Linked DNA regions of Homo sapiens. The protein of the gene in region 1 purifies or fractionates together with the protein of each later gene. This does not show direct contact. Each region holds a gene or a part of one and is shown in the gene's direction. Other genes may lie near its edges. The genes, in order: GAR1, KIF16B, RIOK1, COPRS, TAF1, LYST and MYB.

Evidence for each region.
Region 2: the proteins of GAR1 (region 1) and KIF16B purify together in Homo sapiens (affinity purification with mass spectrometry; one large-scale study listed by BioGRID and IntAct). This does not show direct contact.
Region 3: the proteins of GAR1 (region 1) and RIOK1 purify together in Homo sapiens (affinity purification with mass spectrometry; 4 studies listed by BioGRID and IntAct, with this or other methods). This does not show direct contact.
Region 4: the proteins of GAR1 (region 1) and COPRS purify together in Homo sapiens (affinity purification with mass spectrometry; 4 studies listed by BioGRID and IntAct, with this or other methods). This does not show direct contact.
Region 5: the proteins of GAR1 (region 1) and TAF1 purify together in Homo sapiens (affinity purification with mass spectrometry, with the first as the bait; one large-scale study listed by BioGRID). This does not show direct contact.
Region 6: the proteins of GAR1 (region 1) and LYST purify together in Homo sapiens (affinity purification with mass spectrometry; one large-scale study listed by BioGRID and IntAct). This does not show direct contact.
Region 7: the proteins of GAR1 (region 1) and MYB purify together in Homo sapiens (co-immunoprecipitation; one large-scale study listed by IntAct). This does not show direct contact.

The regions. Positions count from the first base shown.
Region 1 is NC_000004.12:109,822,000-109,826,338, forward strand, and holds the end of GAR1 (H/ACA ribonucleoprotein complex subunit 1), read left to right. Parts: intron 1-347; coding exon 348-489; intron 490-1,965; coding exon 1,966-2,034; intron 2,035-2,418; coding exon 2,419-2,432; 3' UTR 2,433-2,738; downstream 2,739-4,339. UniProt on the Homo sapiens protein: Required for ribosome biogenesis and telomere maintenance. Part of the H/ACA small nucleolar ribonucleoprotein (H/ACA snoRNP) complex, which catalyzes pseudouridylation of rRNA.
Region 2 is NC_000020.11:16,562,720-16,567,320, reverse strand, and holds part of KIF16B (kinesin-like protein KIF16B), read left to right. Parts: intron 1-4,601. UniProt on the Homo sapiens protein: Plus end-directed microtubule-dependent motor protein involved in endosome transport and receptor recycling and degradation.
Region 3 is NC_000006.12:7,406,112-7,410,712, forward strand, and holds part of RIOK1 (serine/threonine-protein kinase RIO1), read left to right. Parts: intron 1-4,274; coding exon 4,275-4,340; intron 4,341-4,601. UniProt on the Homo sapiens protein: Involved in the final steps of cytoplasmic maturation of the 40S ribosomal subunit. Involved in processing of 18S-E pre-rRNA to the mature 18S rRNA. Required for the recycling of NOB1 and PNO1 from the late 40S precursor.
Region 4 is NC_000017.11:31,851,371-31,854,908, reverse strand, and holds the end of COPRS (coordinator of PRMT5 and differentiation stimulator), read left to right. Parts: intron 1-1,878; coding exon 1,879-2,097; intron 2,098-2,600; coding exon 2,601-2,770; 3' UTR 2,771-3,038; downstream 3,039-3,538. UniProt on the Homo sapiens protein: Histone-binding protein required for histone H4 methyltransferase activity of PRMT5.
Region 5 is NC_000023.11:71,379,378-71,383,978, forward strand, and holds part of TAF1 (transcription initiation factor TFIID subunit 1), read left to right. Parts: intron 1-2,365; coding exon 2,366-2,542; intron 2,543-3,158; coding exon 3,159-3,286; intron 3,287-3,383; coding exon 3,384-3,491; intron 3,492-3,613; coding exon 3,614-3,787; intron 3,788-4,584; coding exon 4,585-4,601. UniProt on the Homo sapiens protein: The TFIID basal transcription factor complex plays a major role in the initiation of RNA polymerase II (Pol II)-dependent transcription.
Region 6 is NC_000001.11:235,811,119-235,815,719, reverse strand, and holds part of LYST (lysosomal-trafficking regulator), read left to right. Parts: intron 1-2,658; coding exon 2,659-2,749; intron 2,750-4,601. UniProt on the Homo sapiens protein: Adapter protein that regulates and/or fission of intracellular vesicles such as lysosomes. Might regulate trafficking of effectors involved in exocytosis.
Region 7 is NC_000006.12:135,187,072-135,191,672, forward strand, and holds part of MYB (transcriptional activator Myb), read left to right. Parts: intron 1-762; coding exon 763-834; intron 835-2,719; coding exon 2,720-2,812; intron 2,813-3,055; coding exon 3,056-3,276; intron 3,277-4,601. UniProt on the Homo sapiens protein: Transcriptional activator; DNA-binding protein that specifically recognize the sequence 5'-YAAC[GT]G-3'. Plays an important role in the control of proliferation and differentiation of hematopoietic progenitor cells.

The DNA.
Region 1 (4,339 bases):
GGGGGGAAGGGGAGGGAGAGCAATAGGGCAAATACCCGATGCATACGGGGCTTAAAACCTAGATGATGGGTTGATAGGTGCAGCAAACCACCATGGCACATGTGTACCTATGTAACAAACCTGCACGTTCTGCACATGTATCCCAGAACTTAAGGTAAAAAAAAAAAAAAAAAAAAAAAAGAAACCTAAGTTAGTAAGAAATTAAGTCTCTACCCAGGGATATGTAGTAGAAAGTGGTAGGATTGGGGTTTGAACCCAGGCAGTTTTGACTCTATCATGTAGCTTCTTAATGATTATATTATACTGTCCCCCAAGTTGTATACTAATTGCTTCTATTATGTTTCCAGTTTTATATAGACCCATATAAGCTGCTGCCACTGCAGAGGTTTTTACCTCGACCTCCAGGTGAGAAAGGACCTCCAAGAGGTGGTGGCAGGGGAGGCCGAGGAGGAGGAAGAGGAGGAGGTGGCAGAGGTGGTGGCAGAGGCGGTAAGTTACTTGGGGAAAATTTCTAATGAAATTAACTGTGACTTTCACAGCTAATTCATACAATACAATTTAGCTTTGTACATAGCAAACCTCCCTTATGGTTCTTTTTATTAAAGCTGCTTTCCAATATTGGCAGATTGTCCATAATAATAATGCTTCATTTCAACAACTTACTTAAAAAGAAGAAAATCTACTAAAGTATACTTTTGAGGGACTTCATTTCTTTGGGTTATTCATGTTTTCTTGGACATTTTAATAAACCGTAAGATTATCTTAATTTTAATTCCTTAGTTAATATTATTGAGTGTAGACTGCATGCTGAAAGCTGGTCATACATTCTTTTAATTTCCATGTATATATTTTTAATACTCAGCGAAACCTTTTGAGATAGATGATATCCTTATTTTATGAATGAGGAAACGGAGACTTACAGAAATTAATTTGCCCCAATCAAACAATTGGCAGACCCAAGAATTAAAATGCATATCTTCTGATGTCATGTCAAGAACTATTACTAATAAATTCATTACTGTGATCTCACTGTTGTGATGTATGCCTTTCCCCCAAGGTTTTGGGGTATTTTGATGTATGCCTGTTTTGATGTATGCCTTTCCCCTAAGGTTTGGGCACATTCATCATTATGGACAGCTAGGTGATGAGCAGGGCTCTGGGGAGTGGGGCTGCCATGCCCTGTGAGTAGGAGAAGGGCGAGTGATGGGGTGATGGGCAGAGCCAAAGTGGAAAGGGAGAGGAGCTGAAAGTTGGGCTTGGACAGCTTTTGTTACTGGATCAGAAAAAGAGAAGGAACGCCTCACTTTTGGCGTTTCTCAATTTAATCACCATTTCACTCCATAAAGGTATTTTTTTGTGTCCATATAGGTAGGAAAATTCTCAGGGGTACCTTCTTGAGAATTTGATGAACAGAGATTCCCCTATTCTCATGTTATGTTGAGTATCATTTAACATTTCAAAAAATTCACAGCTGTCTTATTTTTTTAAAATCTTACTTATGTAGCTCAGTTAATCTTAACTATCATATTTATTATCTTACCCCCAGAGCAAAAGCACCCATATCTGCCACCCTTTGTTGTTAGGATAAAAAGCCACAGTTCCATCAAACTATCCTTAGTTGAATCAAAAAAGTATTTATCATAAGCAAGAGCTAAGGCAATAGTCATACATTTAACAAGACTGAATCATACTTTAACAAGTTTTTCTAATTTATTGAAATGGAATAATCTGGGGTTTTAGCCTGTTGCCCAGTTGGTAAACTACTACAGTTTCTCCATTTTTATCTTCTAAAATTTTTTCCCTGATAAAATATGTGAATCTATATTTATTCATTATAATTATAGTTATTGTATTGATCTTTTTAGGCTTATCAATATAAGAGGTTATACAGTTAATAACTTAATGATTATTATATTCTATTGTTATTTAAATACTTTGCGTTATTATTTAATAAATGTTTTTTAGGTGGTTTTAGAGGTGGAAGAGGAGGTGGAGGTGGGGGCTTCAGAGGAGGAAGAGGTGGTGGTTTCAGAGGTGAGTATTTTAAAAAGTCTTTAAATTGCTTAATGTTTAAAATTGATATTATCTGGCATTTTCTGTTTTTACTTAAGTTTAATTTTCTCTGCCAGCAAGTATATAGAACACCATGGTGTTCTTTGCTTAGCCTAATTTGTGGTTTCATTTTATATCACTTTTTTTTTGCCTTTTCTTTTCAATTTTTTCACCTAATTCTAATTTGTTTTGCTTTATTATTAATTTGAAAAATAAAGGTGTAATATGAATGACAGTTAAATTTGGTAAAGTATGTTTGCTAAACATTATTGGAACTAATGCTGATTTTAAACTTGAGATTTAGGTTATAATACTATTAAAAATCCATTTTCTGTGCCCTTAATACTTTAATTTTCTCTTAATCAGGGAGAGGACATTAAGTGAAACAGTTGACAGACATCACCAGTTGACTTCTGCATTAACCTGCATGATCTGTTTCTACTATGGATTGGAAACTTGTTTCTTGAACAAGTCTTGAAGATCTTGGTCATTTTATGACAATGGATCTAAAATGTCAGCATCATGCAAAGTGCAACGGAATAGTGAATTTTGCTCTAAAAGAGCATGAACAAGTCTTTCTAATGTTTTGTACAGTGCCTGGCACTCTGTGGGTGCTCAATAAATGGATAGGAGTTTTCATTTGAAGCATATTTGAATTTTTAAAATAAAGTGTTTTATTCCCTTAAGTTATTTAGAGTGTGTTTATTAAATGAAACCCATTTTTTAAAGTAGAAAGGAATAACTAAAGCTTAAACCCAGTGAATTGCAGATCGAAAAAAGGATTTGTTTATTTATATTACTGATCTTTTAAAAAATAGACTACTGTAGCAGTACTTTAAGATAATTTACAAGTTGACACTGCCTTTCAAAACCCTGGCCTTTTATGTATGAGAAGATAGCTTTGTATTTGCCTTTTGTATTTTAATACATAAATCAGTTAAGCTGTTTCTCTAATTGCAATTAATAATTGATTTAAAAATTTTCCATATTAGTAATGTATTAAAGATGCAGTAGCTCTGTTGAAGTGAAAACTATAGCAAGAAATTTCTAAAGTTAATTTTTCTCATCCAACATAAATGGAATATTAGAAGTTTTACTGAATGTTATTTTATTTTTACTTTTTTAAAGGGACTCTAAAAGTTTAAGGTGTTATTTACTACACGTAAATATTCGTGTAGTATACTACACGAATTCGATTGCATACTACATGTTCAGATTGCTGGGTAAGGATGTTAGAAATGAAATTGGTTTTGGTCACCATTGCTAGTGGATGTAAAGAAATGACTGTGGTAGCAAGTTAGAATGCCATGATATGGAGCCATTTACCCTGCCATTCATTTTTCACTTCTCAAAAGGAATGATGTTTCTATATCGTTTGTTAAATTTTCTAACATGCCCATGGAGGAACGCTCTTGAATGCTCATTTGAGGAGCATACAGTGTTGTCTTTGTCAGTATTTGGGGTTTTATCTTTTTCTGATTGATGGAATTGCAGCAGGATGAATAAATACATAGGCCATTAATATATATGATGAGCAAATGTGTTGAAAATTACAGTTTTTACAGGAATAGGCAGTTATGCTTTTACAGCTTAGGACAGGAGATTATTTGATTTGGAATTGTGGTGATGAAATTTTCATGGAGTGTTAGGGCCAGGGCTTTTGCTCGTGGTTTGGAAAAGATGTTAGTAAGCACCAAAGGGTGATGGCATTGTCCCAAGGACAAATAATAATAGCGCAACATTTCTACAGTTTGTTTTTTTAACATTAAAAATAAATCTAAAATGGCAATAATGGAAATAACATATAGATCAGTAGACAAACCAGTTGGAAATTTTACCGTTTAGCTTATGTATATCTTTTTTTCATTGTCCATCTTTAAGCTTTTATTTCCACATCTTTTCCTTTTTTTTCCTTATAGTTTCTGGGTTTATTTATTTGTTTATTTATTATTATTATTTTTTGAGACGGAGTTTTGTTCTTGTTGCCCAGGCTGGAGTGCAATGGTGCAATGTCGGCTCACTGCAACCTCTACCTCCCGGGTTCAAGCGATTCTCCTGCCTCAGCCTCCCAAGTAGCTGGGATTACAGGCATGCGCCACCATGCCCGGCTAATTTTGTATTTTTAGTAGAGATGGGGTTTCTCCATGTTGGTCAGGCTGGTCTCGAATTCCTGACCTCAGGTGATCCGCCTGCTTTGGCCTCCCAAAGTGCTGGGATTACAGGTGTGAGCCACTGCGCCTGGCCTAGTTTCTGGGTTTTTTTGAGGCATTTCATTTTGAATCAAATT
Region 2 (4,601 bases), on another chromosome or scaffold:
GGATATTGCCAGCGACCATATAGATAATTTCTGTTAGGTGCTTGGCTGATACTCTTTGGAAGTTGGCATTGTCAGCCCATTCTACAGATGAGGAACAAGGGCTCAGAGACTGTAATAAGGAGGTCTCTTATTCAGAAATAAGAAATAAGACCGCCCAAGGTCACATAGCTAGATACTATGATGCTGGATTTGAATCCAAGTCTCCCCTACTCTAACTTCCTAAAGTCCTTTCATTATACAGAAGACTTAGTTGAGAGGTGGGCAGGGGGTGGTTGGAAGGTAGGAACATGTTTATTTCACTAATGATTTTAGACAAATTGAAGATTTTGTAAGAATTAGTTGCAAGGCAGGTAGACAGGGTGTTGTGAGGACTTTTCTTTGTGAAGCCTGGGCATTTGGGTTTTTGATCTCTAGATCCCTATGCTGGCCAGTATAACTGTCGGCCACCTATGTGACTATTTAAGTTAACATAAAATAAAATAAAAAAAGGATTTTAGTTAATTGCATTAGGCACATTTCAAATGCTCAACAGACACATATTCAATAATGTAGATATAAATATATCCACCATCCTGGAAAATTCTCTTGTGCAGCAAGTCTGAATAAAGGCTTGAATTCCAGCTCTTTTACTTTCTACCTCCATACCTTGGCACTTTATTGAACATGTCTGTGCCTCAGTTTCTTCATCTGTAAAATGGAGATCTCCATAGGACCCACCTCGTGGGGCTGGAATGGTAATTTAATGAGGTAGCATTTCGTACAGTGCTGGGCCCAAAAGTAAGCGTTCTGTAAATATCAGGTATATTATTAGGCATTGTGAGCTACTGATGGTTCTAAAACAGGGCTGTCTTTCGCCAATTAGTGTTTTCTGAAGTTTCATCTAATAGTAGTGTAGGGAAATAATAATACTAGCACCAGTAATGGTGAACTTTTATTTACCATTTGCCAAGGGCTGTGCAAAGTGCCTTTTATGCATTATTATCTCCCTGACTTTCCTGCCACCACTCCGTGACGCAAGACTGAGGTTCAAGATGTCTGTCTGAGTGCTGACAACCAGTGCAGGAAGACAGTAAAGAGAACTGAAATATGACCCATGGCGATTGGATTCTGGGCATGGTTATAATTGGAAAAGGCAGAGGCAAGGGACAAAACTTATAAACAAAGCCCTGAAGAAGCAATCACTGTATTTTCTGATTATGAAAATAATGTATGCTTATGAAACGTATGTGTTATGCAGAAAAATATACCGAAGAAATCAAATCGCAAATTGCTCATAATCCCACGATCTGGAGCTAACTACTCATAAACTTTTGGTGCGTTTGCACCTAGTCTTTTTCCTGTTTGTGTAGGAACGTCGTCATGTACACACTTCTATATCCTGCTTTTTGCAGTTGCAAGAGACATTCTAAAGACCAGTCAGCAGGACATAGAGAAGTGGGGAGTCAAAGATGACTCTGAGTGGCTTGGGGCCTTATTAAGTGGAAGAATGACCTTTCCCAAAGGCAGTGATGCTGGCCCTACGCGGGTTGGGGTGGGTAGAAGGGCGTGTTGGTCTGTTGATTTGTTTCGGGGTGCTGGTGGGAACTCCGGGCAGTAGAAACTCAGGTGAGTTATCAGCTCTGCGGATGCGCATTTGCAGATGGGTCACTGGAAGGTGATAGTTGCTGTGGTGGAAGTGAATTCTGTCTCTCAGGAAGGGTAAAGCAGAAAGAGAAAGGGTAACAGCAGTGCTGCATGAGCCGGGTTCAGGCTGGAGCTCTTCAGTGGGCTAGCCGAGTGACTGGGCAAGTTGATTTTCCTCTTTAAGGCTCAGGTTCTGTTTTGTAAAACAGTGATTCTCCAAGTGTGGTCCAGGGACAACTGGGTATCAGTGAGACTCTTTTATAGGGGGTTCACAACGTCAGAACTGTTTTCACAGTACTACTAAGATGTTATATTCCATTTTTTCATTCTCTCATGAAGGTACAGTCAAATTTTCCAGAAACTACATGGTGTGTGATGATGTCACGGCTCTATGGGCTGTGCATTTTGTTTAAAATTTTCACAGTTTTAATTTCTAACATGGTAACTATCAGTAGATATAATTGATGTTAATAAAAGCTCTTGAGCCTCCTCAGTAATTTTTTAAGCCTATAAAAGCGTCCTGAGGCCACAACATTTGAGAACCACTTCCATAAAATAATGCTGTATAAGTAGTTGAGATCAGATGAAATAAATAAATATATAATAACTGTCCACTAAATCATAGTTACTATTATCTTTTATACTCACTATGGTTACTGACAGCCAGATTTCAGGAGGTAGGAGTGGAGGATCAAGTTGGAGAGAGAAGGGGCATGGAGAGAGGAAGGGAGGAAGGCAGGAGAGTAGAATGTCACGCCTGACCAGGGGGCTCAAGGCTTGGGAGGAGGGAAGGTCGCCAGTGTGAGAGGCTGCACAGTCAGGTGGTCGGGCTCAAGTCTGTGGAGGGGTGGGAGGCAGTGCCATGGTTGTGGGAGGCTTGTGCAGTGTGATTGGGCTGTGAGGGCATTGGAGGTAGCCTGTTGCTGCCCTTCCAGTTAATGGAGAGATGAAAGGAAGGAGGGAGCCTCATTTCCGTTCATCTAAGCAGAGGTTGACTCCTGTAATCTTTTTTTTCTTTCAGTTTTTTTTTTTTTATTATACTTTAAGTTTTAGGGTACATGTGCACAACGTGCAGGTTAGTTACATATGGTATACATGTGCCATGTTGGTGTGCTGCACCCATTAACTCGTCATTTAACATTAGGTATATCTCCTAATGCTATCCCTCCCCTCTCCCCCCACCTCACAACAGGCCCCGGTGTGTGATGTTCCCCTTCCTGTGTCCAAGTGTTCTCATTGTTCAATTCCCACCTATGAGTGAGAACATGCGGTGTTTGGTTTTTTGTCCTTGCGATGCACACGTATGTTTATTGCGGCACTATTCACAATAGCAAAGACTTGGAACCAAGCCAAATGTCCAACAGTGATAGACTGGATTAAGAAAATGTGGCACATATACACCATGGAATACTATGCAGCCATAAAAAAGGTTGAGTTCCTGTCCTTTGTAGGGACATGGGTGAAGCTGGAAACCATCATTCTCAGCAAATTACCGCAAGGACTCCTGTAATCTTTTGAAACTTTTTTACTCCATGTTTGAGGCATGGCCTGGTCTGCATCCCTGGATCCCAGCCCTTACCTGGACATGACAAACCCAGGCTCAGCAGAAGACAGATTTTTTTGTTTGTCTCTTTTTGTTTTGAAGAAGAGAAAAAGAAAACAGGGAGTTTGGGGTTGGTGAAAGAAGGCTGGAGGAGCAAGGGAGGGAAGGGGCTGCTGGCTGGAAAGAGAAAGGAGGGGAGAGTTGCTGCTGTTGCTGACACCTTGAGTTGGGAGCGCATGGAAGTTTTTTCTTTCTTTTAGGTGAACTTTATAAGTAATATGATGCAAATGTCTGGTATTTTTCCTTATACAATATTTTAAAATATCTTTGTGTGCAAAATACACTTATACAAGGTGTATTAGTAGTTTAAAAGGTGCTCTTGAGTGACTTGGGTCACATAATTTGGTTTTAAACTTCTGTTGCTTTATTTTAAACATGGAAACTGTGTGAGCATGAGAGTGGAGTGGGAGAGAGTGGAGTGGCAGAGATCGAGTGTGTATGTGTTTCTTTTTGCCTGTCAGAGAGAGAGAAGTTATTTAGAAATGTCCAGTTGTGTGATATATAGCAGTTTGGTCTAAAGTTGATTGATGTGATACTTCCTTGTTTCTTGACTGTTTTTCTAAGTTATTTTGATAGCTTTGGCTGTTTTTGCAGATTCTGGAATTGGGATGCCATCTTACTGAAGCTTGTTTTGTGAAAGAGAATATGTTAATTATACTTAGACCTGTAGCCTGGGAAAAGAAGTAATAGTGTTTTAGCTCCTTCCTGAGGACTGAGAGATTTATTTTGGTGGCTTTGACTGCCTTTCCTCACGTTCAGGTTATAAAAAGACAGGGGAAAAAATCCTTCCAGGGAGGTTGGTCAGCACTGGCTTGGACTTAGCCCGCACATTCATCCAAGCACAAAGGAGGTAACCACCAGTGGGGCCAGGAAGCTTGCCTTCGGTCACTCCTATTATCCCTGGGCGGAGCATTTGTGTTTTTTGCTCTGTCCATTTCCAAATGTATTCATTTTTCATTGTTGCTGTCCATGAGATAGGAAATAGCTGTTTCTGTGATCAGTCATTTATTTATAGACACTTTAAGTACATTTCAGTGGGATATGTAGAATTTAAAGTAAATTGAGAAAGTTAATGCTTTCAATGTAATTGTTGATCAGTAATTTGGTCACTCATTACTATTTCTGGCCACTCATTCACTTGCTAGGAATTCTGCTAAATCCTGCGCTGTACTATCTAATTCACTTCTTCACAACAGTTCTACAGGGGTGAACATCATTAGATCCGTCTTATAGATGGGAAACTGAGTCTCAAAGAAGGATCAGGTTCTGTCTCATATGCCCGTCTTCAGAGAAGGCTTTATTACCTCACTCTGGTTTTCTGGCTTGCTAACATTCCCCATTTTATGAATGTATACGTGTGTGTATGTGTGAATAT
Region 3 (4,601 bases), on another chromosome or scaffold:
CTCAGTCTCCGAGTAGCTAGGACTACAGGCACACGCCACCACACCTAGCTAATTTTTATATTTTTTGTAGAGACAGGGTTTCATCATGTTGCCCAGGCTAGTCTTGAAATCTTGGCCTCAGGTGACCCACCTGCCTCAGCCTCCCAAAGTGCTGGGATTACAGGTGTGAGCCACGACGCCCGGCCTCAGAGGCCTTTCTGAATATAGAATTTTTTAGAATTCTGGTAAAAGACATAATATAAAATTTAATGCTTTAACCATTTGAATGTATGGTTCAGTGGCATTAAGTACATTCACATTGTGGTACAAACTATCACCACTGTCTATCTCCACACCTGTTACATCATCCCAAACTGATATTCTGTACCCATTAAGTAACAACTTCCCATCCCCTGGCAATCACCATTCTACTTTCTGTCTTTGTGAATTCACCTACTCTAGGTACCTCTTATAAGTGGAATCATATAGTATTTGTCTTTTTGTGTCTGGCTTATTTCACTTAGTATGATGTCTTCAAGATTCATCCATGTTATAGCATGTGACAGGATATCTTTTTCTTTTTTTGTTTGAGACAGGGTCTCACTCTGTCACCAGGCTAGAGTGCAGTGGCGTGATCTTGGCTCACTGCAACCTCTGCCTTCGGGTTCAAGCAATTCTACCACCCTGGCCTCCCTGAGTAGCTGGGACTACAGGTGCGAGCCACTACACCCGGCTAATTTGGGTATTTTTTGGTAGAGACAGGGTTTCACCATGTTGGCCAGGCTGGTCTCCAACTCCTGGCCTTAAGTGACCCGCCTGCATCGGCCTCCCGAAGTGCTGGGATTGCAGACATGAGTCACCACGCCTGGCCTAGGATTTCTTCTTTTAAGGCTGAATAATGGTCCAGTGTATGTATATACTATATTTTGTTTATCCATTCATCTGTGGATGGACATACGGGTTGCTTATACCTTCTGGCTATTCTGAATAATGCTGCTATGAACATGGATGTATAAATATCTCTTCAAGATGCTGCTTTCAGTTCTTTCGAATATACACCCAGAAGTAGAATTGCTGGATCAAATGATATTTCTATTTTCAAGTTTCTGAGGAACCCACCATACTGTTTACTGTAGTGGCTGCACCATTTTACATTACCACCAACAATGCACAAGGGTTTTAATCGCTCCACATCCTCACCAGCACTTACTAATCTCCATACCCTCACCAACACCTATTATTTTGTTTTTTGTTTTGTTTTGACAATGAGAGACCCCCTAATGAGTGTGAGGTGTATGTTATTATGGTTTTGGTTTGTGTTTCCCTGATTACTAGTGACGTTGAGCATCTTTTCATGTGCTTCTTGCCCATTTATATATTTTCTTTGGAGAAATGTCTTTTTTTTTTTTTTTAAGAGACAGGGTCTCTCTGTTACCCAGTCTGAAGTACAGTGGTACAATCCTGTCTCACTACAGTCTCAACCTTCTAGACTCAAGCAGTTCTCCTGCCTCAGCTGCTTCAGCCTGCTGAGACTATAGGTGCAGACCATGACACCCAGCCAATTTTTTTTTTCTTTTTCATTTTGTTGGGACAGGGTCTCACTGTGTTTTCCAGTCTGGTCTTAGACTCCTGGGCTTAAGCACTCCTTCTGTCTCGGCCTCTCAAAGTTCTGGGGTTGCAGGCATGAGCCACAGTGTCCAGCCCCATGTCTTTTTTTTAATCAGGTTTGGTTTTTTTTGTTGAGTTGTTTGTATTTTCTGGATATGTCAGATACGTGATTTGCAAATGTTTATTCCCATTCTGTGACTTGTCTTTTCACTCTGTTGATTGCAAGCTTTGATGCACAGAAGTTTTAAATTTTGATGTGATCCAGTTTATCTATTTTTATTTTTGTCTCTGAATCATAGAGTTTTGAACACATGGCATGTATGCCTCTACACAGGTTTTCAGGTTTGTTTGTTTTTGAGATGGAGTCTCGTTCTGTTGCCCAGGCTGGAGTGCAATGGCACAATCTCAGCTCACTGTAACCTCCACCTCCTGGATTCAAGTGATTCTCCCACCTCAGCCTCCTGAATAGCTGGGATTATGGGCACCTGCCATCATGCCCAGCTAATTTTTGTATTTTTGTAGAGATAAGGTTTCACCATGTTGGCCATGGCAAGTCTCGAACTCCTGACCTCAGGAGATCCGCCTGCCTCGGCCTCCCAAAGTGCTGGGATTACAGGCATAAGTCGCCTTGCCTGGCCAGGTCTTCAGGTTTTATCCTGTCCTTTCCTCTTTTTCCATTTCCTTGCAATACCTTCCCATTTCTGCCTTTGCTCAACTTTGCTCCGCCTGGTGAACTTTAAAGCTCCAGTTAGAAAGCTCTCTGGAGGGGTATTTCAGCAGAAATTGTTTTCATAGGTGTAGTCTCCTACAACTATAATAGAAGTAGTCACACTGTGTCACTTATTATACTAAGTCCCTAATTCTGTCACCCTCAATTATGAACTTTTATGGAACAGGAGTTTTCTCTATTGCCAAGTACCCAATATCTGGCCCATAGTAGGCAATCACATCTGTTAATGGAATAAATAAGTGTGTCATTTTTATTCCTCAACTTTTTAACTTAGCACTGACTTTCTTTTTCTTTTTCTTTTTTTTTTTTTTAAATGGAGTTTCCCTCTTGTTGCCCAGGCTGGAGTGCAGTGGGGCAATCTCGGCTCACTGCAACCTTTGCTTCCTGGGTTCAAGCGATTCTCCTGCCTCAGCCTCCCGAGTAGCTGGGATTACAGGCATGCGCCCCCATGCCCAGCTAATTTTGTATTTTTAGTAGAGATGGGGTTTCTCCATGTTGGTCAGGCTGGCCTTGAACTCCTGACCTCAGGTGATCCATCCGCCTCGGCCTCCCAAAGTGCTGGGATCATAGGTGTGAGCCACCGCACCCGGCCTCTTTTATTTATTTATTTTTTTGACGGAGTTTCGCTCTTGTCACCCAGGCTGGAGTGCAGTGTGCAATTTCGGCTCACTGCAATCTCCGCCTCCCAGGTTAAAGCAGTTCTTCTGCCTCAGCCTCCCCAGTAGCTGGGATTACAGGCACCCAGTAGCTGGGATTACAGGAGCCCACCACCACTCCCGACTAATTGTGTGTGTGTGTGTGTGTGTGTGTGTGTGTGTGTGTGTGTGTGTGTGTGTGTGTGTTTGAGATGGAGTCTGGCTCTCTCACCCATGCTGGAGTACAGTGGCACGATCTCGGCTCACCACAACCTCTGCCTCCCGGGTTCAAGTGATTCTCCTGCCTCAGCCTCCAAGTAACTGAGATTTCAGGTGCATGTTAGCATGCCTGGCTAATTTTTGTGTTTTTAGTAGAGACGGGTTTTCACCATGTTGACTAGGCTGGTCTGGAACTCCTGATCTCATGATCCAGCCGCCTCAGCCTCCCAAAGTGCTGGGATTACAGACGTGAGCCTCAGCCTCCCAAAGTGCTGGGATTACAGGCGTGAGCCTCAGCCTCCCAAAGTGCTGGGATTACAGGCATGAGCCTGTAATTAGACTGCACCTGGCCTAATTTTTGTATTTTTAGTAGAGACGGAGTTTCCCCATATTGCCCAGGCTGGTCACAAACTCCTGATCTCAGGTGATCTGCTGGCCTCACCTCCCAAAGTGCTGGGATTAGAGGCGTGAGCCACTGTGCCTGGGTCAGCACTGATTTTCGTGTCTAAACTCAAAAAAAAAAAAAAAAAAAACCTCTGCTCCCACTATTTTTTCCTTTCTTCTATATAGAGAAGAGAACACTCAGTTTTACAAACCAAAAGAACCCTTTGGAATCTTTGTCACCCTCGTTTCAGTCATTGTTTGCTCAGAGAGCTTTCTTCAGTGCAGCAGCAATAAAGCCGTATATTCAAGATTTACAGCCAGCCTTTGCAATTCCCTTCGCCGACTGCTCAGGATTTAAGGAATGGTTCTTTCATTCTTTAGGTCTCTGTATTCCTTTAGTAAATGCTAAAGCATTTACTAAATGCAAAAGCTAATTATTTAAATTTAGTAAAAGTAGCATAACTTTTGAAAAAGGGGGGCTAGGGATCCCCCTAGGCTAGAAGAGTTTGATTTATTGTTACTTTTGGGTTGATGGCAGCCTTTTTGGTGAGGTCTGTGCTGGAAAGCTAACTTGTACCATTAGACCTCACTAAATGCTTTCCTAAGTGTGAGGAGGTGATACTTAAAAAGACTGGAACAATTTTATACCAAAACTGGGACATGGATGTGCCTTCTGCAGTTTGAATATAAAAGAAAGTCATTTTTGTTTTCTTTCCAAGGCCATGGAAATAGCATCTCAAAGGACCAAGGAAGAACGGTCTAGCCAAGATCATGTGGATGAAGAGGTAGGATTTATTATCTATTCACAGCCTTTGGAAACACTTGTGTTTTGAGGGTTTTTTTTTTTATGTTGCTAGAGCATAAACTTGATTTAAATAGATAAGCAGCTTTTTCAAATGATGGTAATATTTCCTTAAGATATATTATAGTAAATGATTTAAGTGAGCCAAGTTGGATAGTTTACATTTCACTGTATTGGTCCACTCAGCAACCTGTTAGCCCATTGTCCTAGATGGAGAAAATTTTTAAAGAGCCTGTTAGGATAT
Region 4 (3,538 bases), on another chromosome or scaffold:
AACCATCACCACTACCTAGTTCCAGAATCTTTTCATCACCCTAAAAGGAAACCCTGTGCTCACCAAGTAGTCATTCTCCATTCCTTCCTTCTCTGAGCTCTTGGCAACCACTAATTTGCTTTCTGTCTCTGTGGGTTTATCTGTTCTGGATAGGCAAATGTGAGTTGCCTGTAAAGGGAATCATAACAATATGTGGCCTTTTGTGTCTGGCTTCTTCCACTTAGCGTATTTTCAAGGTGCATCCATGCCGTAGCATGTATCAGCACTGCATTCCTTTTTATGGCTGAATAATTCCATCATATGCATATACCACATTTTGTTTTTCCATTCATCCATTGATGGACATTTGATGTTGTGTCTACCTTTTGGTGATTGTAAATAGTGCTGCTGTGAGTATCCTTGTTTTATTTGAACAGCTGTTTTCAGTTCTTTTGGGTATATGTTTAGGACTGGGATTGCTGGGTCATATGGTAATTCTATATTTATGTTATGGAACTAGTTAAGTAAATTTCAGCTCAATCACACTTTTTTTTTTTTTTTTTTTTTTTTTTTTGGAGACAGGGTCTCACTCTGTGCAATGGCACGATCTTGGCTCACTGCAGCCTCCACCTCCCAGGTTCAAGCGATCCTCCCACCTCAGCCTCTTGAGTAGCTGGGATTACAGGTGCATGCCACTGCACCCAGCTAAATTTTTTGAATTTTTTGTAGAGACAGGGTTTGCGACATTGTTCAGGCTGGCCTTGAACTCCTGAGCTCAAGCAGTCCACCCACCTTGGCCTCCCAAAGTGCTAGGTTTACAAGGGTGAGCTACCGTGCCCGGCCCAGTCCGATGTTTGGTAATTGACAAAACACGGATTTGAAATCAGACAGTCTGGCTTTAGACCCCTTGCTCTGAACTATCACTTTATTGCTTATCACTGTTACTGTTGTTCCAGTATTAAGAGCATGGCTGTTTTAGGCTGATTGCCTTCTCTCCTGGGACCTGGCATCACCAAAGCACTATGTGCTCGGAAATCCATTATCTTTCCCCAGTCTTTCCTCCGTTATTGTGAGGCCTTTTGAAAATGTACCTTCCGGCCTCCCTGATGTCAGAGGGAGGCACTAGGTGCTGCCCATTGTGATTAGATGGGTTCTGGTCTTCTGCCTGCAGTGCCCCTGCTCCCCTTTGTCCCTGTGCTCACCTCTAACATGCTCTTTGAGGCTGAAGGGAGGAATAAAAGAGCAAAAACAACCGGGCACAGTGGCTTACGCCTGTAATCCCAGCACTTTGGGAGGCCGAGGCGGGTGGATCACAAGGTCAGGGGTTCAAGACCAGCCTGGCCAAGATGGTGAAACCCCGTCTCTACTAAAAATACAAAAAAATTAGCTGGGCGTGGTGGCGGGCGCTTGTAATCCCAGCTGCTCAGGAGGCTGAGGCAGAGAATTGCTTGAACCTGGGAGGTAGAGGTTGCAGTGAGCCGAGATGGTGCCATTGCATTCCAGCCTGGGCGACAGAGCGAGACTCTGTCTCAAAAAAAAAAAAAAAAGAGCAAAAACTTAATTCAGGCTTGTATTGTGAAAGTGTATTATTTATCAGAGGCCCTTTGCCTCAGTGACATACAAACCACCTGAAAATGTTAACTGTCCCTAGCCCTCTTTGTAAATTAAAGGACCTGACAATTAATGCCTTGTATAAGACAAAACGTCTTATTGAAAATAAATTATCAGCTCTTTTAAAAACATACAAAGAAGTGCATTTTTAAAAAAGTGCTCGGTGGCTAAAGAAGACTCTGTGCACTTGTTTTACTACCTTCGTAGTAAGTCTGCCCAAAATTTACTGAGCACAGAGCAGGTCCTCTTTGGTTTGTCACTAAGGCCATCTTCTCTTTGTCAATTTAGCCCGTGGAACACAGAGCATTCCTAATGACAGTCCTGCCCGGGGTGAGGGCACCCATTCTGAAGAGGAAGGCTTTGCCATGGATGAGGAGGACTCTGATGGAGAACTGAATACCTGGGAGCTGTCAGAAGGGACAAACTGTCCACCCAAGGAACAGCCTGGCGATCTTTTTAATGAGGACTGGGACTCGGAGTTGAAAGCAGATCAAGGGAATCCATATGGTAGGTGTGGAGTCTCTGGGGGTCCTGAACTAGGCCTTCTCAGACACACCTGTCAGACCAGCCCTGAAGGCAGTTTGGAACAGGGGTCCACATCTATGAGCTTAGGCTGGTATCTGTTACAGGTCTCCAATTTCTGTGACACCTTCTCTTTTATATTGAAAAAATCCAAATTTTGCATTTGACTCCATAATGTATCACTGTTTTAAAGTCAAAACTGTTACTCTCTCCAAAAATCTCTGCTATGAATTGAGCAGCTGCAGATAGAAGTGCTGTGTTATCCAGTTTGCTTCTTCACTGCTAAGAACCCTTGTCTGAGAAGCATAGCTTCTCAGCTGTTCCGAATGAACGCATTTACAATTCTTCAGGAAAGGAGAACTGTGTGTGTTTTTAAACAAAATAAGTGCAAGGATCTGTCCCCTAGACATACCTTTTTGGCTGTCCGTTTTTACCTTCCTTCCTTCCCTCCTTCCTTCCCTTAATCTGTCTTTTAAAACTGCCTGCAGATGCTGACGACATCCAGGAGAGCATTTCTCAAGAGCTTAAACCTTGGGTGTGCTGTGCCCCACAAGGAGACATGATCTATGACCCCAGCTGGCACCATCCGCCTCCACTGATACCCTATTATTCCAAGATGGTCTTTGAAACAGGACAGTTTGACGATGCTGAAGATTGAGTGTGGAGCTTTCTGCCTTGTAGGTGGGCGGGCCTCCACGTCAAGATCTCTTTTCCTGTCTTGGAGGTGAAAAGTCATATCTGAGAAAATGTTTGCAGTGACCCCTAGTCTGGGGTACACAGACCAGTGTTCCTTATTGACAGTGTTCAATAAGGCCCCGTCATTCTCGCCAGTCTGTTGTTGTTCTTAATGGGCTCCTCCTTGAAATGTGTGTGTGTTTGTGTCAAGAGGAGTTGTGTTCTTTGTAAATAAAGGTTAAAAAGAGAAACCAGTATGCTTCGTCTGCTTTTTTCCCATTTATTTATTTATGGAGACAGTCTCACTGTGTCACGCAGGCTGGAGTGCAGCAGCGCGAACTTGGCTCGTTGGAACCTCCACCTCCTGGGTTTAAGCGATTTTTGTGCCTCAGCCTCCTGAGTAGCTGGGACTATAGGTGCTCGCCACCACACCCGGCTAATTTTTTGTATTTTTAGTAGAGATGGGGTTTCACCACGTTGGCCAGGCTGTTCTCAAATTCCTGGCCTCAAGTAATCCACCCGCCTTGGCCTCCCAAAGTGCTGGGATTACAGGTGTGAGCCACCGTGCCCAGCCTTCACTACTTCATTTAAAGTCCCTGAATGACATTTTAAAGATTCAAACGCTTGGAGGCTTAAAACTACTCTGTGAAAGAAAAAAAATTTTAGTTTTGCTTCTGTAGATCTAGCACTGTTGACCAAGGATTGGAATCCAGGAGACACTGGTGATTTTGTAGCTGATTGTTTTCCTGTT
Region 5 (4,601 bases), on another chromosome or scaffold:
GTGCTGGGATTACAGGTGTGAGCCACCACGCCCGGCTGGCTGTGATGTTCTGAGCTGCCAAGAGATAGTGAAATTTTTAGGATCTGAGGCCTAATTCTAGTCCCTGTAATTTTTATTTTATTTTTATGCTCAACCTGGAGGAAGATAGTCCATGTAATTTTTTGCCCTGTTAAGAAGCTAGGCCAGACTCAGGTTTCTTAAAAACATGTGATAAAGATCTTTTTTTTTTTTTTTTTTTTGAGACGGAGTCTTGCTTGCTCTGTTGCCTGGGCCGGAGTGTAGTGGCGCAATCTCAGCTCACTGCAATCTCTCCCTCCTGGGCTCAGGCGATTCTCCTGCCTCAGCCTCCCGGGTAGCTGGGATTACAGGCATGCGCCACCATGCCCATCTAATTTTGTATTTTTAGTAGCGATGGGGTTTCTCCATGTTGGTCAGGCTGGTCTCGAACTCCCGACCTTAGGTGATCTACCTGCCTCAGCCTCCCAAAGTGCTGGGATTACAGGCATGAGCCACCACGCCTGGCCTGAAGTTAAAGATCTTTCTGAACTATAACAGTACTTTATAGTATATTTTTGTTCCCAAGTCCCTTTGTATTTAGAATTCTAGTTTCCTATTTTTCTCCTTAAATAGGTTTTTTTTTTTAAGGTATGCCATGATTAATGTAAAAAACTTTGAAAATACAGTATAGTGTTAAAGTCACTGGTAATCTATCTGGAGATTATCAACTGTTAAGTTTTGGTGTATTTTCAGTGTTCTGTGTGTGTATGTAGTTGAGCTCATTTCCGTATGTACAGTTTTGCATACTGTGCTTTTCACTTACTAAATATTTTTCTCTCTTTCATTTTTTATTTTTCATTGTTGAGACAGGGCCTCACTTTGTTGCCCAGACTGGTTTCAAACTCCTAGACTCAAGTGATCTTCCTGCCTCGGTCTCCCAAAGTGCTGAGATTACAAGCAAGAGCCACCCCACCCAGCCACATAAATATTTTTGTGTCATTTAGAGTTCTTTATAAAAATGTTTAATGACATGGGAAACTCGTTCATTTTATTTTAATTAAATTATTATTTTTTGTAGAGGTAGAGTCTTGCTATTGTTGGTCAGGCTGGACTCCTGGGCTCAGGTGATCCTCCTGCCTCAGCCTCCCGAGTAGCCAAGACTTCAGGGGCATGCCACCACGTCTGGCTTGAGAAACTCATTTTAAATGGAAATAAAGAAGATATGAAACAACATATATGATATCCTATTAGTGTAAATGAAAAAAAGCAGACTATATAAACATAGAAAGCTGGATTACTTTTATATTTTGGAGGAAAAACAAAATTTTTTCTTTTTTGAGACAAGAGTCTCTGTCGCCCAGGGTGGAATGTGTTGGCGCGATCTTGGCTCACTGCAACATCTGCCTCCCAGGTTGAAGTGATTCTTGTGCTTCAGCCTCCCGAGTAGCTGGGATTATAGGCGTGCACCGCTGTGCCCAGCTAATTTTTGTATTTTTAGTAGAGACGGGGTTTCACCAGGTTGGCCAGGCTGGTCTTGAACTCCTGACCTCAAGTGATCTGCCTGCCTTGGTCTCCCAAAATGCTGGGATTACAGGCGTGAGCCACCACACCCGGATACAAAAATGTCTGATTTTTAAAACCTAAGAAATAGGTTTTTTCCCTTCCATTCTGCCCACTTTATGGGTTATATATTACTATTACGAATGTTTCATAATTTACCGATAACATGTTGCATTTGTTAATACAATTTATTACCATTTATTGTTAGCATACTTTACCATATCATTTATTGTCATAATTTAACCAATTCCTTCTTAAACATTTAGGCTATTTAAATTTCAACTATTATAAACAGTATTGCAGTGGACATTTTTGACTGCAACATTATTTTTATTTATTTATTTTTTGAGACAGAATTTCACTCTTGTTGCCCAGGTTGGAGTGCAATGGCACGATCTCAGCTCACTGCAATCTCTGCCTCCTGGGCTCAGGTGATTCTCCTGCCTCAGCCTCCTGAGTAGCTGGGATTACAGGCATGTGCCACCACACCCAGCTAATTTTTGTATTTTTTGTAAAGATGGGGCTTCTCAATGTTGGTCAGGTTGGTCTTGAACTCCTGACCTGAAGTGATCCACCTGCCTCGGCCTCCCAAAATGCTGTGATTACAGGTGTGAGCCACCGTGCTGAGCCTGCAACATTATTTTAAAGTGAGAAATACACTGTGTAGGTTCCTTTTCAGTGGACACATGAATAACTCCACTAACTCGCTCTACTAACATGAGTAACTCTTTTTATCTTTGCCAGAATCTTGATTGAAAGGGGCATAAATGTTTTCTCTGTTACTATTTCCTCCTTGCACTTTGACTAGGTTTTGCAGCCACTCTTGATGATGACAAACCTTGGTACTCCATTTTTCCCATTGACAATGAGGATCTGGTATATGGACGCTGGGAGGACAATATCATTTGGGATGCTCAGGCCATGCCCCGGCTGTTGGAACCTCCTGTTTTGACACTTGATCCCAATGATGAGAACCTCATTTTGGGTATATTACTGGCAGAGGCCAGTGTTTCTTCTCCTTTGAAAACTTGCTGTTAATGTCAACGGGCAGGAGGAAATCAGAAGGGTTGGAGATGATTAGGACTAGAAACCTGTAGGTAGCGGCTTGAGAGAGCGAAGTTTTGGCTGTTAGTTTATATTATTTGTGTATATGCTTAGGGAACACTCACGTAGGAATGTTGGAAAGTTGCAACTTTGAGATGTCAAGAGCATAGTTTGTTCCGTTAGTGAATCATGGACTCGAAACTTCTAGGTAGCAGTTTGAGAGAGCAAAATTGTGGCAGTTAGTTTTTATTATTTGTGTATTCCCTAGGGAAAACTCATGTAGGACTGTCGGAAAGTAGTACCTTTGAGATGTCAAGCGTGTAGTTCACTTAGTGAATCATGTACTAGAAGTGATTTGGGATGGGATGAAAAGATACAGGTGTAGTTCAGTTAGTAAATCGTGGACTAGAAGTTACCTGGGGGGGGGTGGGATGAAAGGTCTAGTTAAGACCTTCACTGGAACATCCGTCACCTTAAAGAAGAAAACTGGATACTTGTCTGTAGGAAAGGTGAATCTTCAGGGAGAGCAACTCAAGTGATTTTTGTTTTATTCTCAGAAATTCCTGATGAGAAGGAAGAGGCCACCTCTAACTCCCCCTCCAAGGAGAGTAAGAAGGAATCATCTCTGAAGAAGAGTCGAATTCTCTTAGGGAAAACAGGAGTCATCAAGGAGGAACCACAGCAGGTGTGTGAAGAAAAAAGGGGCTTGGTGTTTAGAAGAACAAAGAAAGGTAATAGAGAAGGATAGTCTGACCGAGATTTGTTTGATTATCTATCATTAGAACATGTCTCAGCCAGAAGTGAAAGATCCATGGAATCTCTCCAATGATGAGTATTATTATCCCAAGCAACAGGGTCTTCGAGGCACCTTTGGAGGGAATATTATCCAGGTACAAATAGTGTCTTTTCTGTGATAGAGGAGAACCCCATGGCTTTGTTCTGACGGAGGATATGGGAAAATCTTGCTTAGGATGGAATTAGCTAATTTTAACCCTTCTATTTCCTGTTTTAGCATTCAATTCCTGCTGTGGAATTACGGCAGCCCTTCTTTCCCACCCACATGGGGCCCATCAAACTCCGGCAGTTCCATCGCCCACCTCTGAAAAAGTACTCATTTGGTGCACTTTCTCAGCCAGGTCCCCACTCAGTCCAACCTTTGCTAAAGCACATCAAAAAAAAGGCCAAGGTATAATTGAATTCTGGTTAGAAAACAGCTATAAAGGATATTGGGGTATAAATTAAGGGAATGTACCAGGTATTAGATTGTATTAGGGAATTGGTTATTTTCTCAGATGTGATAGAATGTTATTTTGGTTATTTAGGAGAATGTCTTTATTGTTAGGTGATGCATGTGAAAATATTTAAAGGTGAGGTGTCAGAATGACTGCATCTTTCAAAAACTGTCCAGCAAAGTCTATAGAAAGATAAAAGTTTAAAAAAATGGCGAAATATAAACAGCGACGTGGGATAATAAGTGTTCATAGTACAGTCGTCCTTCGTTATCTCTGGGAGATTGGTTCTAGGACCTTCTCTGGATACCAAAATCTTTAGATGTTCCAGTTTCTGATAAAATAGCATAATATTTGCACATAACCTATGCACATCCTCTCCTATAGTTTAAATCACCTCTAGATTACTTATAATACCTACTCCAATGTAAATGCTATGTGAATAGTTGTTAACACTGTTATTGGTTAGGGAATAATGACAAGAAAAGTCTGTACCTGTTCAGCACAGATGCACTTGTATTTTCTGAATATTTTCTATCTATGGTTGGTTGAAATCACGGATGCAGAACCCATACATGGATATGGAGGGCCGACTGTACTATTCTTTGAACTTTACAGTATGTTTGAAAATTTTGATTATGAAATTGGAAAATAGGTAAAATGTTTTTGGTGTGTTTGTCTCAGATTGAACAACGTCATTGTGTGTAGTAGTGTCCTGTCAGGAGCTAGATGGTATTTTCTTTGTTCTGGACAGATGAGAGAACAAGAGAG
Region 6 (4,601 bases), on another chromosome or scaffold:
TGTATTCCTAGGTATTTTATTCTTTCTGTGACTGTTGTGAATGAGATTGTGTTCTTGGTTTGCCCCTCAGCTTGGGTGTTGTCGATGTATGGAAATGCCACTGATTTCTGTACATTGATTTTGTAGCCTAAGACTTTGCTGAAGTTATTTATCAGATCTAGGAGCTTTTGAGCTGTCTTGCTTTCTATGAAAAAGCCAAACCCATTCCCAGCACTTCATATACTTGCTAGGAGCCCTTTTCCTCCAAATCTTTTCATGGATTCCTTCTTCTCATCAATTAAGTATCTGCTCAAATAGCCCATCCTAAATAGCCTGTCTAAAATGTTACCCTTTTTGTCACTCTGTAATCTCTTTCCTAGATAATTTCCTTCATAGCACAACATTATATCTGAAATTTTCTTATTTTTACCCATTATTTTCTGTCTCCTGTGCTAGGAAGTAGGCTTCATGAGGATATGGATATTGTGTTCACTACAGCATTTGAAGTACCTGACACAGTGCCTGGCCTGTTTAGTAGGGGGATCAAGAAATATTTGTTTAACGGATAAAAGAGGAAAATGGGCATTCAGACAGTAACACTTCAGCAGGGTGTTTGCTGGAATGGAAGCAAATCAGGAACATGAAAGCTAAGTTTACTAAGGGAAGCAGGTAGGGTGTTAGAGAAGTCTCCCCACAGAGGAACTAAAAACCTAGAGAATGAGTTGCAGTTTGGCAGATGGGAGGATGGGGATGGAGAATTGCAGAAACAGTGTATGTGAGGAAGACCTATTGGGAGCACAGAGACCAGTAGTTTTCAGGGGAAACCTTTACCAGCTAGATGTATGCGGAGGGCTCATGTGTGGCAGAGGGAGCTGACACTGGACAGCTCAACAGGAATCATTGCCGTGAAGGGTTTTCTATACCTAAAAAGGGGTTTAGATTTTACTAAACCCCTTTTTTGAAGAATTCTGAGCCTTTTCACAACCAGGACACCAGAAGGAGTAGTCTGAATGTCCTGTCTTTACTTTCTCACTTCCTTTGACTCCTCAGCCTATTGTAATTGGAGTTGCAGTCAAATCACTCCATTAAAGCCGTTAGTTAAGGGGCATTCCAGTTACTAAATGCTTTTCGGCCATCATGTCACACAGTGAAAGGGCAACAGCTTTGGCCCTGCTGACTCCTTTCTTTCCTGAACTGGTCTCTTCCTTGGTTTCTCTGGTTGTACTTCTCTTTCTTGGGGCTATTTTTCAATAGAAGCCTTTTCAGCCTTTTCTTTAGCATTGCCCATCTTTAAGTCTTTAAAGTCCGGAGTTTCATTCTTGATGGTCTTCTATTGTCATTCTATATTCTCACCCTGGGAAAATTCACATATCTTCTTGCCTTCCACCCCAATTACTCCTAAATCTTGTTATTTACTTCATATTTTTTTAAGTTCCAGATCTATATATTTACTGTCTACTAAAAAGCTGTCTTCATTAGGATAGTGCATAGACGTCTCAGACTCCATATGTCTGAAAAGTGAATCCATCATCTTTATCCCAACCTAATACCACTTGTAAATTTCCTGTCTTGGTGAATACATTATCAGCTACCTAGATGCTGAAACCAGTAACCTGTGGGTCCTTTTAGATCTTTTCTTTTCTCCCTTATGTGCCATAGATAATCAACTGCAAGTTATTTTAGTTCTACCTTACAGTTTCTCAAATATGTCTCCTTTTCCCTTCTGTTGTTGGAGTACTTCAGAAAGTCATCATCTCTCTCATCTGGATTATTGTTACCCTGCCTCTAACACTGCTTCCCCTTCCAACTAATTCTGTTCAGCAAATCTGATTGTGTCATCATGCGACCCCCTCTCCCACTGATTGGTGTAAGGCGAGAACTCAAACTTGATTTGTCGTTAAATCCTTTACTACCCATGTCCCAGGTGTCCCAGGTCTAGCTCTCTAGCTCCCATTCTCCTTCCATACTTCTGATAATGACTGCTCCTTTTTCTGAACTCCTAAACTGAATGCTTCTACCACCCCTGGATACTTACTCATACTACATGCCTTCTGCTGTTCTTTAACTGTTTATGTGTATGTATTTTATGGACCAAATGAGGGGACCTTCTCCAGGGCTTGGACCATATCCTCCAGAAAGGGTAAGACAGTATTTTTGTGGACATAGTATGCAGTCAATAAATATTTATTGGATTACATTCACTAATAAGTCTTTCTCTCCTTATATATTATTTATTAATAATGTCAATTTCTCTTTTAAAATCGTCTCTGAGTTTTTCATTTAACTGCATGAAGGCTTCACATTTTTCTAGTAACTTTGTAGCATTGCTTTGCTAATTAATAGGGCTTAACTTTTCATTTTCACCTAGCAAATCTGTTTCTTCATAGGTAAGGAATTCTTGCAATGTGCATGGTGGTAATAACAGCTATTTTTGGAAATATCAGCAGGAGTGTGCTAAATACTGTCAAATACTCTTAGATTCTTCTATCATTAGAAAGGCTTATAAACTTAAAAGTATCACAGCTTTAACTGGATTGAAGATAGGTTAATTTGATTCTTAGCTTTTCAAATGCAGACTTTCAAGAAAAAGGATTTTTTGGTTCAGTTTAAGACAAGACATTAGGAACTGATGTGTCTTATCGCCTTAGAACATGAAGGATTCTTTTGTTACTGACATAGGCATTGACATGTAGAGAAGAACTCCTGACTCTTCTTCTGTCTCTCCTTCCACTGGTATGGAAGATACCTGTCCAAGAAGAAAAGGCAACAGGTATGCTTTTTCCCTTTATCATATCACTTGTGTTATCAAAATTTCATAGAAAAGTTACTTCTGCCTGAATGTTTGATTCTGATTCAGATTCAGAACACTATATGTTATTGTGATTTATTCATACTAAATATGAAAAATTATTTAGGCAAACACATTTTTCCTTCAATAATACAAAAACCATGGTGCTTCTTGGGGGAAGTACTTGAATGTACTGATGATTAGAAAATGTATAAAGAAGCAGAAACACTTATCAGAAGGAGTGAGTCTAGGTGTGCAGCATAACATCAGAAAAATGGATAGTGAAAAGTTGGAAGTGAAAAGTCTGAATAAAGAAATTAAAGTTTCTTTGCTTATTTTAAAGACTGCTTTCTATTACCAGTATTCTATAAGTGACTTTTGCAGTATTTGTTTTAGCTTAGTTTTTCTAGTGTTGCCTTTAAAGTATAATTTTTTTTTTTTTTTTTTAGGCAGAGTCTCACTCTGTCACCCAGGTTGGAGGGCAGTGGAGTGATCTCGGCTCACTGCAACCTCAGCCTCCCGAGTTCAAGCAATTCTTGTGCCTCAGCCTCCTGAGTAGATGGGATTACAGTCGTGCACCACCATGCCAGACTAATTTTTGCATTTTAGTACATACAGATGGGATTTCACCATGTTGGCCAGGCTGGTCTCAAACTCCTGACCTCAAGTAATCTGCCCACCACAGCCTCCCAAAGTGCTGGGATTACAGGCATGAGCCACCGTGCCCAGCCTAAAGGATATATTTAATATTTTGTTTCAAGCTTGGGTAGAATTATTCTATGTAAGGTCGATAGATATTTTTAATTTATGATTTTGAAGAAATCATATGTCTATAAAGTACATGAAACTTTAAATGTTTCATTGGAGAGATTAATAGTTTTCCTCTTGACCCTTTCTTGTGACATGTTTGTGAGATGTTTGAAGATCTCTCAGGTTAAAAAAAAAATTATTGTATTTTAATTCCTGTATTTTTAGTGAATTTCATGGAGCTTTTTTTAAGGAGGTATCTAAGGTTTTGTAATACTGTTTTTCTGCTTATTTATTGATTCACTAACTCTCTGCTTTTATTTTTTTCTGAGTTTGCAGAATTCACAAATTGTTAATCACTTAAGAAATCTGATTAATGCTCTTTGGGGGAAGTTGTCTTCATTGTCTGCATCTTTTGCTTGGGTGGAATTTGTCAGACTCCTTTTAATTTCTCCTCTTCCCATCTGGTTTGCTTTCCCTGTCTTAGTAAAGCACAGATTTTTTTATTTACAGATTTTAATTTATTCACTCTAAATTACAGCTACTTTTTTATATAGCTCTTACTACATACTGCAAAGAGAAAGACTGATCTAATTATCTTTTTAGTTAAAGGGAGAATTCATTCATTTCCCCTGTGAAGTATTTACTGAGTGTTGACCATACGCCAGGCCCTATCTAGGCACCGGGGATGAAATAATAGTGTCTATACCTGGTGCCTAGTTCAGTGCTGAAACATTTGAGAAATAATTTGAATAAAGAATTATTTAAACCTCAGTTTTAGAGAACATTTGGCATATAGTGTATGATTTTGAAATAATTTTAGAAAAATCTTAAAGTAGTTAAATTATATCAGGTCTATGAATACTATTTTTGAGAATATAATACATCCTTACATTTTAATTAGTGGTACTATGGGAAGAGATTTGTAAATGGTGTGAACAACAGCACTAAATACCAGATAATCTACAGCATCTCTTATGTTGAAGTTAGAATATAATATATAGTTTTAAATCAGATTTACTTTCTTAACTCTGTTCTCTTTTGTTTGTTGTTGTTGTTTTGAGACAGAGTCTCACTCTGTCACCTG
Region 7 (4,601 bases), on another chromosome or scaffold:
TTGTACCAGGGACCTCCACTGTGTGTGAATGTTACCTTTGCAGAAACATAAGAAGGAATGCATTTATATACTTATGAACTGGTAGGATTGTGAACAGCATATAAACTAAAAGAACTGATTAGCTGGAAATGTTTAATGTCTTTTATGTTCTAACACATCTGGCCTATCTAAATCTAACTGATTTTCTTATATAGCTTTCAAATTTAATTTTAAAAATGGTCTTTATTTCTTTATAAAAAGTTAAACTAACTGGAAATATTCTATTTCTTGCTCAAGATCCTATTTATTACCATAGGTAAATGTGTACTGAATCTAGCACTGGAATGCATTTTTTCCTAACAGAGTAAAGCAGTTATTTATAATAAACACTCAATATATGCCAGGCATTATGATAAATGTTTTGCAAAATTGCCTCATGTAATCCCCAAATAACCCTGTTAATATCAGCCTCATGTTAATAAATTGCCCCATGTAATCCCCAAATAACCCTGTTAATTTCCATTTTATAGATGGCAATACTAAGGCCCAGAAAGGTAAAATGGTATACCCGCTTTACACAATTAATAGTTGAGTCAAGATGCCAACTCTGGTCTGATTCTAAATAAATCTATACTCCCAAGTCCGTATATTACATTAATATCTCCTGTATTCGGATACTTTAGAGAGACTTTTTATTCTAGATTCGTTCCCTCATTCACTTTAACTTGAACAGAGTTATATAGTAAATAACTGATATCCTAGGATTACCTTTAAATGTCTTAGGATGAAAAACTGAAGAAGCTGGTGGAACAGAATGGAACAGATGACTGGAAAGTTATTGCCAATTATCTCCCGGTAAGTTAGTAAGTTTTTCTTATAACGAAAGGAAAGCTTCTCCCAAAGATTTCTATAAAATATTCTAGGAGGAGTTATTAAGATAGTGTATAATTTACTCACATTTAAGAAGTGGGAGAAATGCCCTACCCATAACTTATATTTTATATTATAATGCATATAATTAAATTATTAGAATTTAGATTATTAGAATCGATTATTATAATTTAGATTATCAAATTTTAAAAACAGTTGCTTCTTGTTTTATCTTTTCATTTATAGGATAATTAGTATTTTGATGATTTGTTACATGGTAGTTGATTAAACTTGATATTTCCTCCAAGTCAGTTTTTCCTGAATTCCCTATTTTTGTCAATAGCAATACTTTTGGCACCAAGGTTTAAAATTCTGAAGACCTTTCTTGACTTATCACATTCCCCCAACCCCTACATCTAAGCAGTTACTAAGGACCCTGGAATTCCTTTATAGTCAGTCCCGTCCTTTTCATTCTCATGGCTGTGCTGAAGGTTGGGCTCCTGCCCTCTCATTTGGACTATCATATAACTTCCTAACTGGCTTCCCCACTTGTAGTTTTCCATTTTTCTTTCTTTTTTTTTTTTTTGTTTTTTGTTTTTTGTTTTTTGAGATGGAATCTAGCTTTGTTGCCCAGGCTGGAGTGCAGTGGCACGATCTCAGCTCACTGCAACCTCCGCCTCCCAGGTTCAAGCGATTCTCGTGCCTCAGCCCCCTTAGTAGATGGGATCACAGGTGCCCGCCACCATGCCTGGCTAATTTTTGTATTTTTAGTAGAGACAAGGTTTCACCATATTGATCAGGCTGGTCCCAAACTCCTGACCTCAAGTGATCTGCCCACCTCAGCCTCCCGAAGTGCTAGGATTGCAGGCATGAGCCACCGTGCCCAGCCAGTCTTCTACTTTTCCATTCATCCCAAACACCATTGGCAGGTGGAACTTCCTAAAATGCAGCTGTACCTTATCTTTTCAAAACCAACCACAGTGACAGAATCTCACAAATTAAGTAAACTGCCTTGACTTGGCACACAGAGGCCCTCCTCTATTGCCCCAACTTACAGCTCCAGTTCTGTTTCCTGCTTCCTCTCTCTAAGCAGGTTTGCTTGAATTTATTTCTGCTTTACCTCCTCTGGGCTTTTGCTCCTGGTCTTCCCACCTCCTAGAATATTCTCCCTTTATGTCACCAATTAAAGTTCTGTCCATCCTTCAAAGTCCTTATGAAGAGCTCTTCAAGACTCCTCCCAAGGAAACCATTTCTCCTCCTAAGAAGATGCTTCTCTCCTCACTTCAGTATCATTTTGCTTTGGTCTTTTCTTCCAAGTGAATCAAATTCAGCATCTGTGATAGTCAGTCATCTACTTGTCTTTTCCTTCTTATAAGTTTACAAACTCCTGTAACATAGGACCTATCTTTTATGCATCTTTTTTCTTTCTGCAATATAAATACTTTGGTCCTGGATTGAAGCACATCTCTTGTCTGAATGGGAAGCAAACTTTAGTCTTTTAGGGTGGTTTCCATGAAAGCCTGACAACATAGAATCTCTATCAAGCCTCAGGCTATGTAGATACTCTGCAAAAGTATCTGAGGTTAAGGTTAACTTGGCAGGCACATGTGTAGTATGATGGTCCTTTAGATCATGTGGCAGGAATGTTTCCCTCAGGAGGCAGAGTGTCTAATTTTAGATGCAACTTTGATATATTACTTGCATGTTCTGTAGCCTGTAAGTAATGAGGGATAGATGGGCTCTAAACATGCTCTAAAATGTTCTTAAATATTTTCACTGCATATGGTCTATGTGTGATTCCTATTACAACAAAAAATTCACGTGCTTATCACATCATATCTTTATGGTGGTGCATACTTTATTTGTCTAGAATCGAACAGATGTGCAGTGCCAGCACCGATGGCAGAAAGTACTAAACCCTGAGCTCATCAAGGGTCCTTGGACCAAAGAAGAAGATCAGAGAGTAAGTTCTTTCTTCATTGGTGTGTGACTCATAATTAAGAATATTCCCAAAATGCTAATATTTTCCTATTTGAGGAAGCAGGTAAAATGGGCAAACAGGAAGTAGAGGACTCTATTCCCATATTTCCAGTGAATGAAAGCAAATTTTGGAAATTTTCTAAAGATCTTGTAACACTGAAGAATGATTATACTGACTCATTACATAACTTTAAAACATAGGTTATTTTTGTGTGTTTATCTGAAGGTGATAGAGCTTGTACAGAAATACGGTCCGAAACGTTGGTCTGTTATTGCCAAGCACTTAAAGGGGAGAATTGGAAAACAATGTAGGGAGAGGTGGCATAACCACTTGAATCCAGAAGTTAAGAAAACCTCCTGGACAGAAGAGGAAGACAGAATTATTTACCAGGCACACAAGAGACTGGGGAACAGATGGGCAGAAATCGCAAAGCTACTGCCTGGACGGTAATAATATGTCAAAAAATATATTGATCGGGAAGAATGAGGGAGTGGGTATTGAACATTCTGCTTTAAATGTATGGTGAGTAAATTATATTTCATCAGTCGTAAGTGTTTTATTAGATAAACCAGCTACATAGCTTTTAGAGATTGAAGACATCTTAGAGTTTATTTGGTTGAGAACTTCCAGGATCCACCTGACAGTGAGCCCTGGGTGAAGACATTTAGCTTTCCCCAGCCTCAATTTCCCCATTTCCAAAATGAATCATACAGGGCCAGTGTTAGGATCAAGTAAAATGAATGTCAAAGGACTTGGTAAACTATAAAACTCTAAATGCATAGAAAGAAACTGAAGACAGTTTGTCTCTGGCAGTTCACGTAGCTGGTTAAGTTACTCAAAGGAACTCAGCTACCATTTTCCTGATAACCATCATTCATTTCTTTTATTTTTTTTAATTATTATTTTTTAGAGACAGAGGCTTGTTCTGTCACACATGAGTGACAGAGTGCAGTGGCATGATCATAGCTCAATACATCCTTGAACTCCTGGGCTCAAGGGATCCTCCCACCTCAGCTTCTTGAGTAGCTAGGACTACAGGTGCACCCCACTACACCCAGCTGATTTTAAAATATTTTTTGTAGAGATGGAATCCTGCTATGTTACCCAGGCTGGTATCAAACTCCTGGCCTCAAACAATCCTTTCACCTCCCAAAGTGCTGGGATTATAGGCATGGGCCACCATACCTGGCCACCAGTATTCATTTCATTATACCACTTTGCTTAATTTTTTACTTCATTGATTAAAGAAATAATGTATTTCTTGAATTCTCATACTACTTCCAGGTTTTTAAATAATGTCAGGGTAATAATGCTTTCTTTTTAATGAACAAGGCAAGAAAATGACCTCATTATGAGGGATAACTATGGAAGCTCATTTTGTCCCATTTTTCCCACTTAAGTAGTATATAACAGATTTTGTTCCTTTGGAAAGCAATACTTTTAATGATAAATCTTGCATTAAAATGATGTAGATCAAAAATATTAAAAATAGTTTTATTCTTGAGCTTCATAATCCAGGAGAAAGTTTATATAGTATTCTCTAGTGATGCTCCAAAGCATTTGCACCCTTGTGGTTCAGTATAAACTTAGAAATTTTAAGAGGTTGGTAAAAAAAGGCCTTTCCTCCCATATGGCCTGAGAGGATACACTGCTGATTCTTCTCAAAATTAACAGGGCTATTGAACTTCCTCTTTCTTTAGCATACATTCCCCCACCCCCATTGAAATAGAAAAAGGGAGACTTAAACGGTTTTTTTGAATTGAGAAACTGT